Linked DNA regions of Homo sapiens: region 1 is linked to region 2. The links come from fine-mapping of genetic effects on gene expression. A gene starts in region 2. The other region holds a variant in brackets. All regions are shown on one strand. Distances are from middle to middle.

Region 1 (8,321 bases), 57 kb after region 2:
GGGATTACAGGTGCCCCCCACCACACCGGGCTAATTTTTGTATTTTTAGTAGACGGGGTTTCACCACGTTGGCCAGGCTGTTGTCGAACTCCTGACTTCAGGAGATCCGCCCACTTCAGCCTCCCGAAGTTCTGGGAGCTCCAGGCCGAGATGAGGCCTCTTTGAGCCCCACAATCCGCACCCACCTCCGCTTCCTCCCCACACTCACTGCGGGATGTCTTCAGGCTGTCGGTCCTGGAAGTGGAGCCCAGCGGCCGAGCGGGTCCTCCGTAGATCTGTGGGGTAGAGAGTAGGGCAGGGAAGCCGGCACTGCCTGGGACCTCAGCCCCCGCTCCTGCCGGTGCCGCCCGCCCTCACCCACCTATGGATGCTGCAGAGGGTCTCCGAAAGCTCTGCATATCCACGGGCCCCGGGGGCAGCGGGGGCTTGGCTGGAGGGTGTCCCAGGCTGCTGGCAGGGGGCAGAGGCCTCCGCCGGGGTGGATGGCTGGGTCTGAGGCCTGGCCTGGCCCCTCCACTGTGAACCAGGCCTCCTGACCTCCAGCGGGGTGTCCCAGCCGCTCCAAACCCAGGGCTGAGCGGGTGCCGGGAGCTGAAGCCGGCCACGGCCGCAGGCAGTGAGCTCTCGGAAGCGGAGCTGGGGAGTGGAGGCTTTCGAGGGAGATCACCGAAGAACTCAGGCTGCGGGTGTCTCTTGAGGACAGCGCTGGGCTCAGGCTGTGAGAACTTGCGGGGTGGCCCCCGGCGCTCCGGCTGCAGCAGCTTCCTGGGGAGTGAGTTGAACTCGGGCTCTGAGGAGGTCCTGGGGAGGCCGCCCAGCTCGGGCTGCGGGGGCTTCTTGGAGAGCGCTTTGAATTCGGCCGGCCGCGGCCTCTTGGGAAGCACGCTGACTTCGGGCTCTGAGGAGGTCCTGGTGAGGTCCCCAAGCTCAGGCTGCGGAGGCTTCTTGGGAAAGTCACTCAGCGGAGGCTGGGAGGCCTTTTTGGGAAAGGCGCTGGAGTCGCGCTTCGGCTCGCTGGACTGAGGCTTCCAGAGGGGAGTCTGAGCGGCCTCGCTGAACTCAGGCTGCGGCACGGACTTCTTAGGGAGGCCACCGACCTGAGGCTGCGGAGGCTTTTTGGGGTACACGTTGAACTCAGGCTGCGCAGGCTTCTTGGGAAAGGTACTCAACTCAGGCTGCGGGGACCTCGGGGTAGCCTCACCGGCCTCGGGTTGCCAGAGCTTCCTGGGGAATGCGCCGGATTTGGGTTCGGAGGGGGGTCTGGCGGGGTGACTGAGTTCGTCGGGCTGCAGGGGTTTCCGGGCCGGCGCACCAGGCTCCGGCAGCGAGGCCTTCAAAGGGGCCTCACCGACCTCAGGCTGCAGGGGCTTCCTTGGAAACGGAGTGGCCCCCAGCTGTGGGAACTTCTTGGAGAGGTCACTCAACTCCAGTTTGGACGGCTTCTTGGGGAGGTCAGTGACCTCAGGCGGCGGGGGCTTCTTGGGGAGGTCAGTGACCTCAGGCGGCGGGGGCTTCTTGGGGAGGTCAGTGACCTCAGGCGGCGGGGGCTTCTTGGGGAGGTCAGTGACCTCAGGCGGCGGGGGCTTCAAGGACACTGCACCAAACTCAGGCAGCGGGGCCTTCTTGGGGTGCTCGCTTAGCTCAGGCTGGGAGAACTTCTTCAGTTTACCAAACTCAGGCTTCGGAGGTTTTTTGGGCAGGTCGCTGGGCTCCGGCTGAGAGGCCTGGAACTTTGCTTTGATGCTCCGGAAGTCCTGATGGCTCTCCTAGGAGACGCAGAGCCAATGAGGCAGGGGCTCAAACACACAGAAGGGGCATGGAAGGATGGGCCTGGGGACCCTCAGGCACAGCCCACAACCACCACCCCTGCGCCCAGGCCCGGTCAGCCCTCAGCTCTTTCCCAGGAGCCCCCATGGATCCTAGGATCCTGGGACCGACACCCCTCCCTACTTCTCCATTTAGTGCTGATTCCACACCCAACCTCCTCTAGCAGCACTGGAGATCCCGACATCCCTCCTGCAGCCTCCAGTCCCACTGCCCTCCCCCCATGGGTGGTACCCCACCCCCCCAGCATCCTTGACCCCCTCATTCTTTCACCCCTCCCACTGCATGTCTCCAGTCTCGTTCCATTGCCCAGGCTGGAGAGCAGTGGTGCAATCATAGCTCACTGCAGCTTGCAACTCCTGGGCTCCAATGATTCCCCCGACCTCGGCCTCCCCAGTAGCTGGGATTACAGGCTTGAGCCGCCGCGCCCAGGCCCCCAGTCCCTTCTGTGCTAATTTCAAAACACATCCGGAATCCAACCACTTCTCACTGCCTTCACCACTGTCACCCCAGGAGGTAGTGGGAGGCAGTGTCTGCCCTCCCCCAACCAATTGCCTGGATTACTCTAACAAGCCCTTCCCTGGGCCTCTGCCTACCCCCTTCCCTGGTCAGTTCCCCCCATGGCAGCTGGAGGGAGAAGCCTGTTGAACCCTGAGTCTGTTTGTGTCCCTCTGCTCAAAACTCGGCAATGCTTCCTCATGTCCCCACAGTTCAAGCTAAATGCCTCATAAAAGCCTGGGCGAACCAGCCTCCCTACCCAGCCACCTTCTCCTCCCTGCACCCTGAACACTTCCCTCCGACCTCGGGGCCTCTGCCCTGTCCCTGACCCAGGACATGTCTCTGCACCACCTGGGTCTCTCCTTTTCCTCCTCCCAGCCTCTGTTCTCATATTTTCTTATTAGAGAGGCCATCCAAGGCCACCCTATTTGTTTATTTTTATTTTTTGAGATGGAGTCTTGCTCTGTCACCCAGACTGGAGTGCAATGGCGCGATCTCGGCTCACTGCAATCTCCACTTCCCAGGTTCAAATGATTCTCGTGCCTCAGCCGCCCAAGTAGCTGGGATTACAGGCACTCGCCACCACACCTGGCTAATTTTTGTATTTTAACTAGAGACAGGGTTTCACCACGTTGGCCAGGCTGGTCTCAAACTCACGACCTCAGGTGATCCACCCTCCACCCGCCTCAGCCTCCCAAAGTGCTGGGATTACAGGTGTGAGCCACCGTGCCCAACCTAGACCACCCTATTTTTCTTTCTTTCTTTTTTTTTTTTTTTTTTGAGACGGAGTCTCACTCTGTCACCCAGGTTGGAATGCAGTGGTGGAATCTCGCCATACTGCAACCTCCGCCTCCTGGGTTCAAGCGATTCTCAGCCTCCTGAGTAGCTGGGATCACAGGTGTCTGCCACGACGCCTGGCTAATTTTTTTTGTATTTTTAATGGAAACAGGGTTTTACCATGTTGGCCAGGCTGGTCTCGAACTCCTGACCTCAAGTGATCCACCCACCTCGGCCTCCCAAAGTGCATGAGCCATCACGCCTGGCCTAGACCACCCTATTTTAAATGGATCACCCCATCCCACTACTGCCCTGCATTCAGCATGCATGATTTTCTCCATCGTACCCACCCCTACGTATTAT[A/G]CTATTTTACATTGTTTTTAATGTGTCTTGATTTTTTTTTTTTTTTTTTTTTGTCTCTCTACACCACAACTTCCCTCAGTTCCTCAGCCTCTGCAAGGCAGAGACTTGGCTCATTCATTGCTGTCTTCCCAGGGCCTGGAACATGGTAGGTGCTCAGTAAATATTTGCTGAAATAAACAATATTCAGGCAGCACAAAGACAGCCATGTACTCAGCCTGACCATCAGGAAAACACAGAGATGCCTGGAGACGGCCATGCGGTCCCTCTCACACCGTCTCTGACATGCGGGCTGATGGTCAGGAATGCTCACAGTTGACAGTGCCTGAGAGGATTGGTGCAGACACCGTGGGCACAGGCGCTGTCTCCTGCATACCCAGCTGTCCCAGCTGCCCTCCTAGCTGGCCCTGCAACCACTCCTCACAGAGGTAGGCAGATTCACAAGAAGGCCAGGCCTCCTTAGTCCTACAAACGCCCCTTTCACCTGTGGTCAAGGAGATTGGGGGAGGGAAAGGGCAGAAACGTGTGGCCTTTGCTTCCTGCGTGTGCCTCACTTTCCCCATCCAGAGGACCAGAGACCAGGATTGCTCCTTGGAAAGGCAGCAATTCCCACCTGGGGCCTGAAGTGCCCCTGTCAAAGCCCCGAGTGGTTTGAAGGAAGTGCTCCCGGGCGACCACAGGGCTAGATAAGTCAGGGTTAGCAGGTCACAACTTGGGTGACTGGACGGGGGAGGGTCATGACCCACTTTGTCACCCCGCAGGAAAGCACTGCTCTCACCCCAGCAGCCCGTTCCCACATGGCTGCTCATGTTGACCTGGGGAGACGGGAGTTGTCCCCCCGGGGAGTCCCATCTGTCCCCCTCGCAGTCCCAACCTGAGCGTGAACCCCCAGGAGCCCGCGCTGTCCTGGGGTGTGCCTGGTGGCCGCCTACCTCGGGTCCTTTTTGCCGACCCTTCCCGTTTCCCAGATGTCTTTCGCAGCCACCCCCCGCCCCCCCGCCCGCCCCTCCACAGGTGGATCCTATCCTTCTGGGAACATCTGTGTCCCTTGCTTCCCAGCCAGTGAGGCACAGGCCTCTTCCAGCACTCACCATGGCTGCAGGCAGGTGATGGGCCATGGGATGAGTGGGACCCGAGCTGGGGCCGCTGCCTTCAGGAAGTGACTGTGGCTTCTGCTCCACGGTCAGCACACAGGGTGGGGGCTGCTAGAGGTGGGGCGGGGGAGGGCAGAGGAGGAAGGGAAGGAGGTGGGGAGGCTCCAGTCCGTCTCCAGATCCTGCCAGCCACTTCTTTTTTTTTGAGACTGAGTCTTGCTCTGTCGCCCAGGCTGGAGTGCCATGGTGCCATCTCGGCTCACTGCAACCTCTGCCTCCCGGGTTCAGGCAATTCTTTTGCATCAACCTCCTGAGTAGCTGGGATTACAGGCGCGCACCACCGCTCCTGGCTACTTTTCGTATCTTTAGTAGAGAAGGGGTTTCACCATGTTGGGCAGGCTGGTCTCAAACTCCTGACCTCAAGGGATCGGTCCGCCTCGGCCTACCAAAGTGCTGGGATTACAGGTGTGAGCCACTGCCCCGGCCCCTGCTGGGCACTTCTATTTCGCTTGAATTCCTGTCCTGCCTGCTACTGTCCCAAGCTTGGGGCACTGGTTGCCCGCATGTTCCTAACATGGTCACTAGTTTCTTTCTTTTTTTTTTTTTTTTTTTTTTTTTTGAGACGGGGTATCACTTTGTTGCCCAGGCTGGAGTGTAGTGGCGCAATCTCGACTCACTGCAACCTCCGCCTCCCAGGTTCAAGCGATTGTCCTGCCTCAGTCTCCTGAGTAGCTGGAATTACATGCATGTGCCACCACTGCCGGCTAATTTTTTGTATTTTTAGTAGAGACGGGGTTTCACCATGTTGGTCAGGCTGGTCTCAAACTCCCAACCTCAGATGATCTGCCCGCCTCGGCCTCCCAAAGTGCTGGGACTACAGGCGTGAGCAACCACGCCTGGCCAACTAGTTTCTTACTCTCTATAGTCCCCATCATTCCTACTACTTTGGTGTCCCCATCTCTGGACTCCAGGGAGGACTCCATGCCAGGCCCTGGTGACCTCCTGGGCTAGAGAGCCACAGGATGGGGAGATCTCAGCAGATCAGGGGTACGGACAGCTCTGGGGTTTAGGAGGCTCCTGGGGAGGCCCAGAGGCCCAGGACGTGGGGGCCCATGTGACCGGGTGAGGCCTCTGCTGTCTGCCCTGGTTGGCTCATCCGCCTTCCTCATTTCAACACTTCCATGAAATCCAATTCCCGGCTCTGAGCAGGACTCACTTGTTCTGGGGCAGATATCACAGGCCATGGATGTCCCAGGCTGCCGCCCTGGGCAGAAAGCTTAGCTGGTACAGCAGATTTGGGGGTCGGTGGGTGAGTGGTGTCAAAGGCCTTGCACCTGGGCCACGCACGGTGGCTCACGCCTGTAATCCTAACACTTTGGGAGGCTGAGGCAGGAGGATCACTTGAGCCCAGGAGTTCAAGACCAGCTTGGGCAATGTAGCAAGACTCCATCTCTACAAAAAATATAAAATTAGCCAGGTGTGATGGTGCACGCCTGTGGTCCCAGCTGCTTGGGAGGCTGGGGTGGGAGAATCACTTGAACCCTGAAGGCGGAGGTTGCAGAGTCAAGATCACGCCACTGTACTCCATGCTGGGTGACAGAGAGAGACTCCATCTCAAAAAAAAAAAAAAAAAAAGGCTTTGCAGTTCTGGAGGAGTGAGGGGGTCTGAGGACCCGAGGACACACCAGATTCCCAGAGGTTAGAGGTAGTAGAGAGAAGAGGAACCAGGAGACAGAGACAGGGGCCAAGAGGGGGTGAAGGCAGTCACTTGTGGTGCCGAGGACTGGCCAGATAAGGACAAGCCCTGACCACAGAGCTCAGCCCACAGGAGATCAGTAATCTCCGTCACGGTAGACAAAGGGAGAAAACACCTGCTAAGAGAGTAGAGAGCCCTGGTTTTCAGTTTGAGCACATGTTGGAATTGCCTGAACAGTTAAAAAAAAAAAAAAAAGAACCGGCGGTTGGGCAGTGTGGCTCACGCCTGTAATCCCAGCACTTTGGGAGGCTGAGTCGGGTGGATCACCTGAGGTTGATCACCTGAGGTTGGGAGTTCAAGACCAGCCTGGGCAACATGGAGAAACCCCATCTCTACTAAAAATACAAAAATTAGCTCGGCGTGGTGGCGCATGCCTGTAATCTTGGCTACTTGGGAGGCTGAGGCAGGAGAATTGCTTGAACCCAGGAGGCGGAGGTTGCAGTGAGACGAGATGGCTCCACTGCACTCCAGTCTGGGTGACAGAGCAAAACTCCATCTAAAAAAAAACAAAACAAAAAACAGAACCTACAAGAAACTCTGACTTAATCAGTCTGGGGTGTGGCCCGAGCAAGTATTTTTAAAACATTTTAAAATTTTTTTTTTGAGACAAAGTCTTGCTCTGTCTCCCAGGCTGCCTCCCGGCTTCAAGTAGCTGGGATTACAGGTGCCTGCCAACATGCCCGGCTAATTTTCTGGATTTTTAGCAGAGCTGGGGTGTCACCATTGGCCAGGCTGGTCTCAAACTCCTGACCTCAAGCAATCTACCCACGTGGGCCTCCCAAAGTGCTGGGATTACAGGCCTTAGTCACTGCGCCTGGCCTGCCTGTTTTCACGCCTCCTTTAAGAGCACAGACATCAGGATTCTGCCATCTCTGTTGTGCCTTTGCATCCTGTCCTGGGGCACAGTTCCCAGATGTGGGTTGCCCTCCCAAAAAGGAGTCTCGGGAGGACAGTATGGGCTCTCTGTGGGTCTCCAGAACCTTGGCAAGTGAAGGAAAGAATGAAAGAAAGAACAAGTGGCCAGGCGCGGTGGCTGACGCCTGTAATCCCAGAAGTTTGGGAGGCCAGGCGGGCGTATCACCTGAGGTCAGGAGTTCGAGAGCAGCCTGGCCAACATGATGAAACCCTGTCTCTACTAAAAATACTGTTTGTGCACACCTGTAATCCCAGGTACCTGGGAGGCTGAGGCGGGAGAATCGCTTGAACCCGGGAGGCGGAGGTTGCAGTGAGCTGAGATTGCGCCATTGCACTCCAACCTGGGTGACAAGGCGAGACACCGTCTCAAAAAAAAAAAAATTAAATTAAATAATAAAAATAAGTAAATAAATAAATCAAGCAATGCTTGGCCACAGTAAGGAGCTCAATCAAGGTAATTAAAGGATTGGATGACAGCTGATGGATTCCCAGGTGCCTGGGCTGGTCACTACCCGTGCACTCTCGCAGCTAGGAGGGTCCAGCCAGGGCGCGCGCACCAAGGCCCCACGGGGGCGCCGTGGGGGTGAAGCGCAGGTCCCGGAGCTGTAGTCATGGTGCGCCTCCCCGCCAACTACCCTTTGTGTATTTGGCGCCTCCGTAGGGGCTCCCGGCAGGGTTCCGCGCGGCGCGGCTGCAGACAGGGACAGATAGGGTTACCGGAATCCCGGAGAAGGGAGCCCGGACCAGGGGAGTGAGAGTTCGTTAGGGCGCGCCTTGGGGAATCTGCGGGGTCGGAAACGCGAACAACGGTGTGCAGGGGGAGGAGCCCGGGGAGCACGTGGGCGGCGGATCCCAGGGCCGCAGGGCGCCCTCCACCTCCCCGCTCCTGGCCCGCAATGAGGGTAACCGGACCGGCACCTGCAAGTGACAGCTGGGGCTGGACAAATGCCGGGCACGGGCCTCTGGCCGGCCTCAGAGCTGTTCAGCGCGAGCCCGCGGCTTCCAGCCAACCTGCCCGCTATCCCCACTGCTCTCCCGGCTTTCATTCCCCCGAGTCTGAGATTCCTGGGCGCCCCCTGCTGGGCGGAGCCGGGGCC
Region 2 (8,321 bases):
AGCTATAATTATACTTCTGTTGTCTATTCTAGGCAACAGGGCAAGACCCTGTCTCTAAAGCAAACAAACAATTTTTTAAAAATGGTGACAATATCCACGCTGACTTAGGGTGACTATAGATTAGGCATAGTTCCGAGTCTCTCCCTCCTTTGACTGTCACTTGTTAGGGAAGAAGTGGTTATTACCTACATTTTACAGGTGAGAAGACTGAGGCCCAGGGCAGGGAAGCCTTAATCTAAGGTCTCAGAGCTGTAGGAAGTGGAGCCGGGGTGACACCAGGACTCCTTTTGGAGGAAGACTCAGGAAAGATGCAGAATACGTGTTTTTTTTTTTTTTTTTTTTTTTTTTTGAAACAGAGTCTTACTCCATCACCCAGGTTGGAGAGCAGTGGCGTGATCTTGGTGATCTTGGCTTACTGCAACCTCTGCCTCCCGGGTTCAAGTGATTCTCTCTTGCCTCAGCCTCCCAAGTAGCTGGGACCACAGGCAGCTAAGTTTTGTATTTTTAGTAGAGATGAAGTCTTGTCATGTTGACCAGGCTGGTCTCGAACTCCTGACCTCAGGTGATTCACCTACCTCGGCCCCCTAAAGTGCTGGGATTACAGGCGTGAGCCACCGAGCCTGGCCCAGAATGCAGTTAATCTAATAACAACACCTACTTCTTCAGCGCTTTCTGCCTGCCGATTCTTTTATATTTAAAGGCTCTTGGCATCTGTCTGCTTTTAAAGCTCAGGGCAACCCTGAAAGGTGAGTTCTGGTGCCTTTCTTTCTTTCTCTCTCTCTCTCTCTCTCTTTCTTTTCTTTCTTTCTTTCGACGGAGTCTCGCCCTGTTGCCCAGGCTAGAGCGCAGTGGCACTATCTCTGCTCACTGCAACCTCCACCTCCCGAGTTCAAGCAATTATCCTGTCTCAGCCTCCTGAGTAGCTGGGACTACAGGCGCCAACCATCATGCCTGGCTAATTTCTGTATTTTTAGTACAGATGGGGTTTCGCCATATTGGCCAGGCTGGTATTGAACTCCTGACCTCAAATGATCCACCTGACTCGGCCTCTCAAACTGCTAGGATTACAGGCGTGAGCCACCGTGCCCAGCCTGGTGCATTGCATTTCTTATTATCCATATTTTCAGTTAAGCAAACTGAGCCTCAGAGTGGAGGAGCTGATTGCTCAAGGTCTGTTTTCCATATGAATCCCTGCCTGGTATGTAGCTCACTCACAAAGGAAGAAAAACTTTCTGCCTGGACTGGAAGGGCAAGGAGAAGCCTGTGTGGCCATGGGAGTGGAGGAAACAGCTAAGCACAAAGGCCCAGAGGCTGGAAACTGCTTAGCCTGTAGGAAGAGCAGCAGGGAGGAACCCCAGGGCTGGAGCAGTGTGATTGAGGGGCAGGTGGCTGGAGAGATGGGCAGGGCCTCCTAGGCATGGGGTGACTGACGCACCAGTGGTCTGCAAAAACGGAGCATCACACCAGTGCGCATGAGCTCTCCTGCCCCTTGGGGGGGCCTTCCTTGCTCCTGCAGCTGAACTCCCTACACAGCCTGACACCCATCTTTCCTCAGGCCAACTTTGGCCTGTGGTGCCCCAGGAGTTGATGTACAGATGCCTCAGGACATGCCATGAGGAAGAGAGAGACGAGATGGGGTGACTCATGCCTGAAATCCCAGCACTTTAGGAGGCCAAGGCAGGAGGATTGCTTGAAGGCTGGGAGTTAGAGACCAGCCTGGCCAACATAGCAAGACCCTGTCTCTACAAAAAGAGAAAGAAACAGAGAGAGAGAGAAGGAAAAGTGTTTTCTTTGCAAATCTATTCTAATACTTTCATAGAGAAGAGTTTTAGTTTGGTGTTAACCTGTCTTTAATAATCCTCTAAGGACCAGCACAGTGGCTCACGCTTATAATCCCAGCACTGTGGGAGGCCAAGGCTGTAGGATCCCTTGAGCTCAGGAGTTCGAGACCATCCTGGGAAAAACGGCAAGACCCTATCTGTACCAAAAAATAAAAATAAAAAATTAGCCAAGTGCAGCGGCGTGCACCTACAGTCCCAGCTACTTGACAGGCTAAGCAGGGGAGGATCGCTTGAGTTCAGGAGTTCAAGGTTGCAGTGAGCTATCATTTACAAAGGTAGATTGAAATATTATTGATAGGCTGGGCACGGTGACTCACACCTGTAATCCCAGCACTTTGGGAGGCTGAGGTGGGCAGATCACCTGAGGTCAGGAGTTTGAGACTAGTTTGGCCAGCATGGCAAAACCCCATCTCTACTAAAAAATACAAAACTTAGCCAGGCGTCGTGGTGTGCACCTGTAATCCCAGATACTTGGAAAGCTGATGCAGAAGAATCGCTTGAAATCAGGAGGCGGAGGTTGCAGTGAGCTGAGATGGTGCCACTGCACTCCAGCCTCTGTGACAGAGCAAGACTGTCTCCAAAAAAAGAAAAAAATATATTATTGATAATCGCTGCATTGAAGGCCAGGCGCAGTGGTTTACGCCTACAATCGCAGCACTTTGGGAGCCTGAGGCAGGCGGATCACGAGGTCAGGAGTTCGAGACCAGCCTGACCAATATGATGAAACCTTGTCTCTACTAAAAATACAAAAGTTAGCCGGGCGTGGTGGCATGCACCTGTAATCCCAGCTACTCGGGAGGCTGAGACAGGAGAATCGCTTGAACCCAGGAGGCGGAGGTTGCAGCGAGCCGAGATGGCGCCATTGCACTCCAGTCTGGGCAACAAGAGCGAAACTCCGTCTCAAAAAGATAATCGCTGCATCTTACTGCCCAAGTTGCCACAAGCACACGTAACATCTGATGGTGCCAATTCGACTGTCTGCACTTGGAAAATGGCACATTGGAGGCTGCACAGCACCATAAAACTGATGCCACGAATGCACACAAAAATAAGACCATACAGCATTATGCCTAGTACAGAATACACCCTGAATTCTGTCACAGTTCACTTTATGCAACATTGCAAGAGTCCTCTCGCTCTTTATTATTATTTTTAATTTTTTTGAGATGGGGTCTCACTCTGTGACCAGGCTGGAGTGCAGTGGCCCGATCTTGGCTCACTGCAACCTCCTCCTCCTGGGTTGAAGCGATTCTCCTGCCTCAGGCTCCCCAGTAGCTGGGATTATGGGCGCCTGCCACCACACCCGGCTAATTTTTGTATTTTTAGTAGAGACAGGGTTTCATCATGTTGGCCAGGATGGTCTGATCTCTTGACCTCGTGATCCACCCGCCTTGGCCTCTCAAAGTGGTAGGATTACAGGCGTGAGCTGCCGCGCCCAGCCATTAATTTTTTTTTTAATTTTGTTTTTAACTTTTAGGTTTGGGGGTAAATGTGAAGGTTTGTTAAATAGGTAAACACTTGTCATGGAGGTTTGTTGTACAGATTATTTCATCACCCAGGTATTAAGCCCAGTACTCAATACTTATCTTTTTGTTTTTTGAGATGGAGTCTCAGTCTATCTCCCAGGCTGCGGTGCAGTGGCGTGATCTCGGCTCACTGCAACCTCCGGCTCCTGGGTTCAAGCGATTCTCCTGCTTCAGCCTCCCGAGTAGCTGGGATTACAGGCGCCCGCCACCACGTCCAGCTAATTTTTTTATTTTTAGTAGAGACGCGGTTTCACCATGTTGGCCAGTCTGGTCTCGAACTCCTGACCTCAGGTGATCCGCCGCCTCGGCCTCCCATACCCAAAGTGCTGGGATTACAGGAGTGAGCCATCGCGCCTGGCCCCATTATTAGTGAATTTTAACAGTTTTCCGTTTCTTCTGGACGAACTGTTTGCAATTATAATGCGAATTACGGATAATACTCTGATATTATTCCATGCCGTTCCGTTGTTGCCTACAAAGTTCGCGCTGGAGAACCGCGCAATTGCGTTACAAAAAGAAAAAAATCACACAAAAAGACACAATGTTTTAAGAAAGTTTACGAATCGTGTGCCGGACCGCGGGTTGAACAAGCTTCATCTAAAACTTCCAGGAATCTCTAGACAGGATCATTGCTTCCCCTCTGCTCCAGCTCTGGTTACAGAAAGCTGAGAGTGACTAGGTCTAGGTGTTTGTGTGGGGTGGGGTGGGGAGATGCCTCCTCTATCGGACTCAGAGGACGCGCGCCGGGAACAGCCAGTCGGTGCCTAACGCGAGTGTATCTCGAGAGAGAAGCGATCAACAGCTGCCGGTCTGCGCCTGCGCGCGGCGGGGGCGTGGCCCGGGGCGAGTGGGGCCAAGGAGGCAGCCGGGAGCGGCGGGCGCAGGTGTTACTGGTTGCGTCGGGTCACGTGGGCGCGCAGGCGCAGCGCGGTGCAGCCCGTTCGCTCACACAAAGCCCAGACGCGGAGAAAATGGCGGCAGGGGTCGAAGCGGCGGCGGAGGTGGCGGCGACGGAGATCAAAATGGAGGAAGAGAGCGGCGCGCCCGGCGTGCCGAGCGGCAACGGGGCTCCGGGCCCTAAGGGGTGAGTATCCCACGGTCCTTTGCCACGGGTAAGGGTTCCTCTCCGCGGCCGACGCGGGCGGCGGCTCCGTTAGGTCTGTTGGCGGCCTAGCCCCGGCGCGGCCTCGGCCCCGGCTGTTCCCGTACCGCCTGCTCAGGGTAGCGGCGTCTAGGGCCGTGAGCGGGGAGCCGGGGGAGCCTCCAGAATCGTCCCCTACACCGGGCCTCGAGCCTCGCCACCCTCAGTCCCTCCAGGCCGGGGCCAACCCCGTAGTCGAGGCCTCAGGCCCAGCTGCTGCGCATGGGGGTTGATGGCGCGGGCCCGGACCGGAGAGCCTCCGAGGCCTACCCGACCGCTCCCCGGGAGGGTGACCTCGGGGGCCGGGTTTCAGCCCCCCGTCCCCTCTCCTCCCGGGGTCTGTTTTCTGATCCGTAACGTGGGGGGAGGAGAGAGGGTGCGCGCCCGGGAGGCCTCGCGCGCAGTCAGCCCGAGTCAACGGTAACCGAGCGAGGGAAGCGTCAGGAAGGGCCGCGAAGCCGGGTCGGGGGGCTCCCCTCCTGCCCCGCCCCTTAGTCCCCGCGCGCCGACCGCGCTCCGCGGGAAGTGCCTCCCTCGGAACCGCCCCTCGCCCCACGCTCTGGCCCTGGCTCAAGTCCCTCGCCGTTTCCCGCTCCTCCTCCCCGGGTGCGCCGCAGGTATTAGTGGAGAGATGGGATCTGCTGCTTAGCGTTCACCCTCGGAAGCAGACAGATACGAAGTCGGGGGAGGAATCCCCTTTTTCCCGTGTTTCGGGGAAGCTGTTCTGTCAGGAGGCGGGTTCATTTACTTCCAGACTTCATCAGCTTTTCGAGTCCTGCTTGGGGCTCTTTGACTCCTTGGCTTTTAAAAGTTTCTTTAAAGGAGGAAGCATCGACTTGTGCCCCGGTGAAACTCATTCATTCTGATTACAGACACTTAAGAGAGACAGAGAGGTTTTGGCTCCAAGATCAGCGGCCGGGAAGGAAGGGGAAGCCTGGGTACACATTGAATTTCCCAGACATTTATTTCATTGTGGTAAAATAGACATAACGTAGACTTTGCCATTTTAACCATTTTTTAAGCGTATAATTCAGTGGCATTGAGTATACTGACTCAGTGTGCTGTAACCGTCACTGCTTCATGTCCAGAACTTTTTCATCATCGGAAACAGAAAGTGTAGCTATTAAATACTAACTCCCTCCGTTTTCTTTCCTTTCTGTCTGTGACTTTGCCTTCCTCATATTGTAATGTGTGAAGCTTAGTTTATGGAGATTAAAAGTGAATGCGGTTGAGCACTTATATATTTAATTTTTTTCTTTGAGACAGGGTCTCCCTCTGTTACCCAAGCTGGGATGCAGTGGCACGATCACAGATCACTGCAGCCTCGAACTCCTGGGCTCAATCGATCCTTCCATCTCAGCCTCCTGAGTAGCTGGGATCACAGGCGCGGCACCACCATGCCCGGCTAATTTTTTGAAGAGAGGAGGTCTCCGGGTGTTGCCCAGGCTGGTCTGAAACTCCTGGGTTCAAGCCATCCTCCTGCCTAGGCCTTCCAAAGTGCTGAAGTTACAGGCATGAGCTACTGCGCCCTGCCTAGTTGAGCGCTTAGGTTAAGAACGTTCCCTAAGTGCTAGCTATATTGGTAGATAATAAATCCGGAGAAAATTCCAGATTCTTTCCCTCCTTAAGTAGGGAGAAATAAAATACCATGGTTACTGGCCCTTAGAAATGAGAAAAACTTCCTCTATTCCCAGCATTTTACTATTGAAAACTCTGGGAAGGAATGTGTTAATTTTGACTTTTTCAGCGTCTATCTACGGAAGCTGGTAGGATTTCTGAGGGTGGTATTTGGAGGGCTTTAAGATAAATTTATTTACCGTATGCAGGAAGGAGTGCTGGTAGAACCTTGCTAGATGATAGGGTAAATTAATAGATTACAAATTTTCCCTTTTCCCCTGTCCATTTTCAAATAGTCATTTTGTGACTGAGTCATTTTACAAATACATGTGGACTGTTGGAACCTGAAAATTGTAGAATAAAATAGCCGTTGTGAGAAAGAGGCTCAAAGTCTCAAAGTCTAGTACTAGCTTCATAGAGGATAGTTTAGGAAGCTGGCAACACTTGGATATTTTTGATAGGGCCTGTGGAAAACTTTTTTTTTTTTTTTTCATTACAAGTCTTAAGGAAATCTCTTTAGAAGCCTATACTTTTGCACTCCATGCAGAGTGGAGAGGCCATTAACATATTTGTATGTTATGTATGTTATGTAATTACCATAACATAAGGTAATTATGCTGTGATAGAAGTTAGTGGAGTTGCTTGGTAGAAAGAATGGAGGAGGTGACCTCCGCCACCTGCTGGGGGCAGGGACCTGTTCCTCCATGACAGGAAGACGTGTGGAAGTGGAGGAGAAGAAGATGGTTGGGGAGGGGCAGGGAAGAGAGTATCCAAAGAGCAGAGATTTGAGTGTATGCTTTATCGAGAACTGAAGTTGTGCTGGGTGTAGTGGCTCACACCTGTAATCCCAGCACTTTGGGAGGCTGAGGTGAGAGGACTATTTGAGCTCAGGAGTTCAAGACCAGCCTGGGCAACATGGTGAAACCCTGTCTCTACCAAAAAAAAGAAAAAACAAAACAGGCTGGGCCCGGCGGCTCACGCCTGTAATCTCAGCACTTTGGGAGGCCGAGGCGGGCAGATCACGAGGTCAGGAGATAGAGACCATCCTGGCTAACACGGTGAAACCCCGTCTCTACTAAAAATACAAAAAATTAGCCGGGCGTGGTGCCGGGCTCCTGTAGTCTCAGCCACTGGGGAGGCTGAGGCAGGAGAATGGCGTGAACCTGGGAGGCAGAGCTTGCAGTGAGCCGAGATTGGGCCACTGCACTCCAGCCTGGGCGACAGAGCGATACTCCTTCTTCAAACAAACAAACAAACAAGAACACTGAAGTTGCTATAGAGTTTTAAGGTTGGAGCACTGGCAGCCAGCTGATGGGCAGTGAATTTGGATTTTTATCTTGAAAGCCTTTGAGAGACAGGAGAAAAATAGAAACTTGGTTCTTTGGAATTCTTTCTCTACCAGGAGTGGAGTGTGCAGTAGACCACAAATGCAGTGAGCTAGCAAGCTTGATCTGGGAACCCAGGTTGGAAATCTTGTTTTGCAGTTACTTCTCTCCTGGGTGTGAGAATAGGATTTGCTTAATTTTGATGAGAAGTCTGTTCCAATTAAAGTCAGCAAAGATTCAGAGTTAGGGTATAGTCAGGGAAAAAAAAGTTCATTTTAGGGGAATGTATAGGTTTTTAAAATTTTTTTAAATGTAGTATCATATATAAAATAAATGACTTAACCTGCTCCCCTTCCTGAGTAATTTTTTTTTTTTTTTGAGATGGAGTCTCGCTCTGTTGCCCAGGCTGGAGTGCAGTGGCGCGATCTCAGCTCACTGCAAGCTCCGTGAACCGCTTCCCGGGTTCACGCCATTCTCCTGCCTCAGCCTCACGAGTAGCTGGGACTACAGGCGCCCGCCACCATGCCTGGCTAATTTTTTTAATATTTTTTTTTAGTAGAGATGGGGTTTCACTCTGTTAGCCAGGATGGTCTCGATCTCCTGACGTCGTTATCCGCCCGTCTTGGCCTCCCAAAGTGCTGGGATTATAGGCGTGAGCTACCACACCTGGCCCCTTCCTGAGTAATTTTGTGGGTGAATAAGAAACAGATGGATTGGTTATTTATAAAAATAAAAATATATATTTAGGGTAGATTCCTGAGGAGGTACTGTTAGAGTTGACTCCATTTGACAATCAAGAAAACTTTCGTTTTAAACACTTAAACCCAGGTTCAGGAACCTGACCTAAAGACTCCAGGGGAGGCCCTCCTGA

Evidence for each region. PIP is the estimated chance that this variant, and not a neighbour inherited with it, causes the effect.
Region 1: its variant is fine-mapped to the expression of HNRNPM in whole blood (TOPMed, PIP 0.97).

What each region holds. Positions count from the first base shown.
Region 1 is chr19:8,498,015-8,506,335 of GRCh38, forward strand. It overlaps PRAM1 (PML-RARA regulated adaptor molecule 1), which reads right to left and starts at 4,626. Exons shown (of 10, transcript NM_032152.5): 1 at 4,551-4,626; 2 at 362-1,766; 3 at 209-275. The coding sequence starts at 4,577. RefSeq lists enhancers at 495-1,181, 7,791-8,291 and silencers at 7,708-7,757, 7,778-7,877, 7,988-8,247. The variant A/G (reference allele first, on the strand shown) is at 3,463.
Region 2 is chr19:8,440,661-8,448,981 of GRCh38, forward strand. It overlaps HNRNPM (heterogeneous nuclear ribonucleoprotein M), which reads left to right and starts at 4,315. Exons shown (of 16, transcript NM_005968.5): 1 at 4,315-4,451. The coding sequence starts at 4,339. RefSeq lists silencers at 1,205-1,499, 4,074-4,353, 4,594-4,823.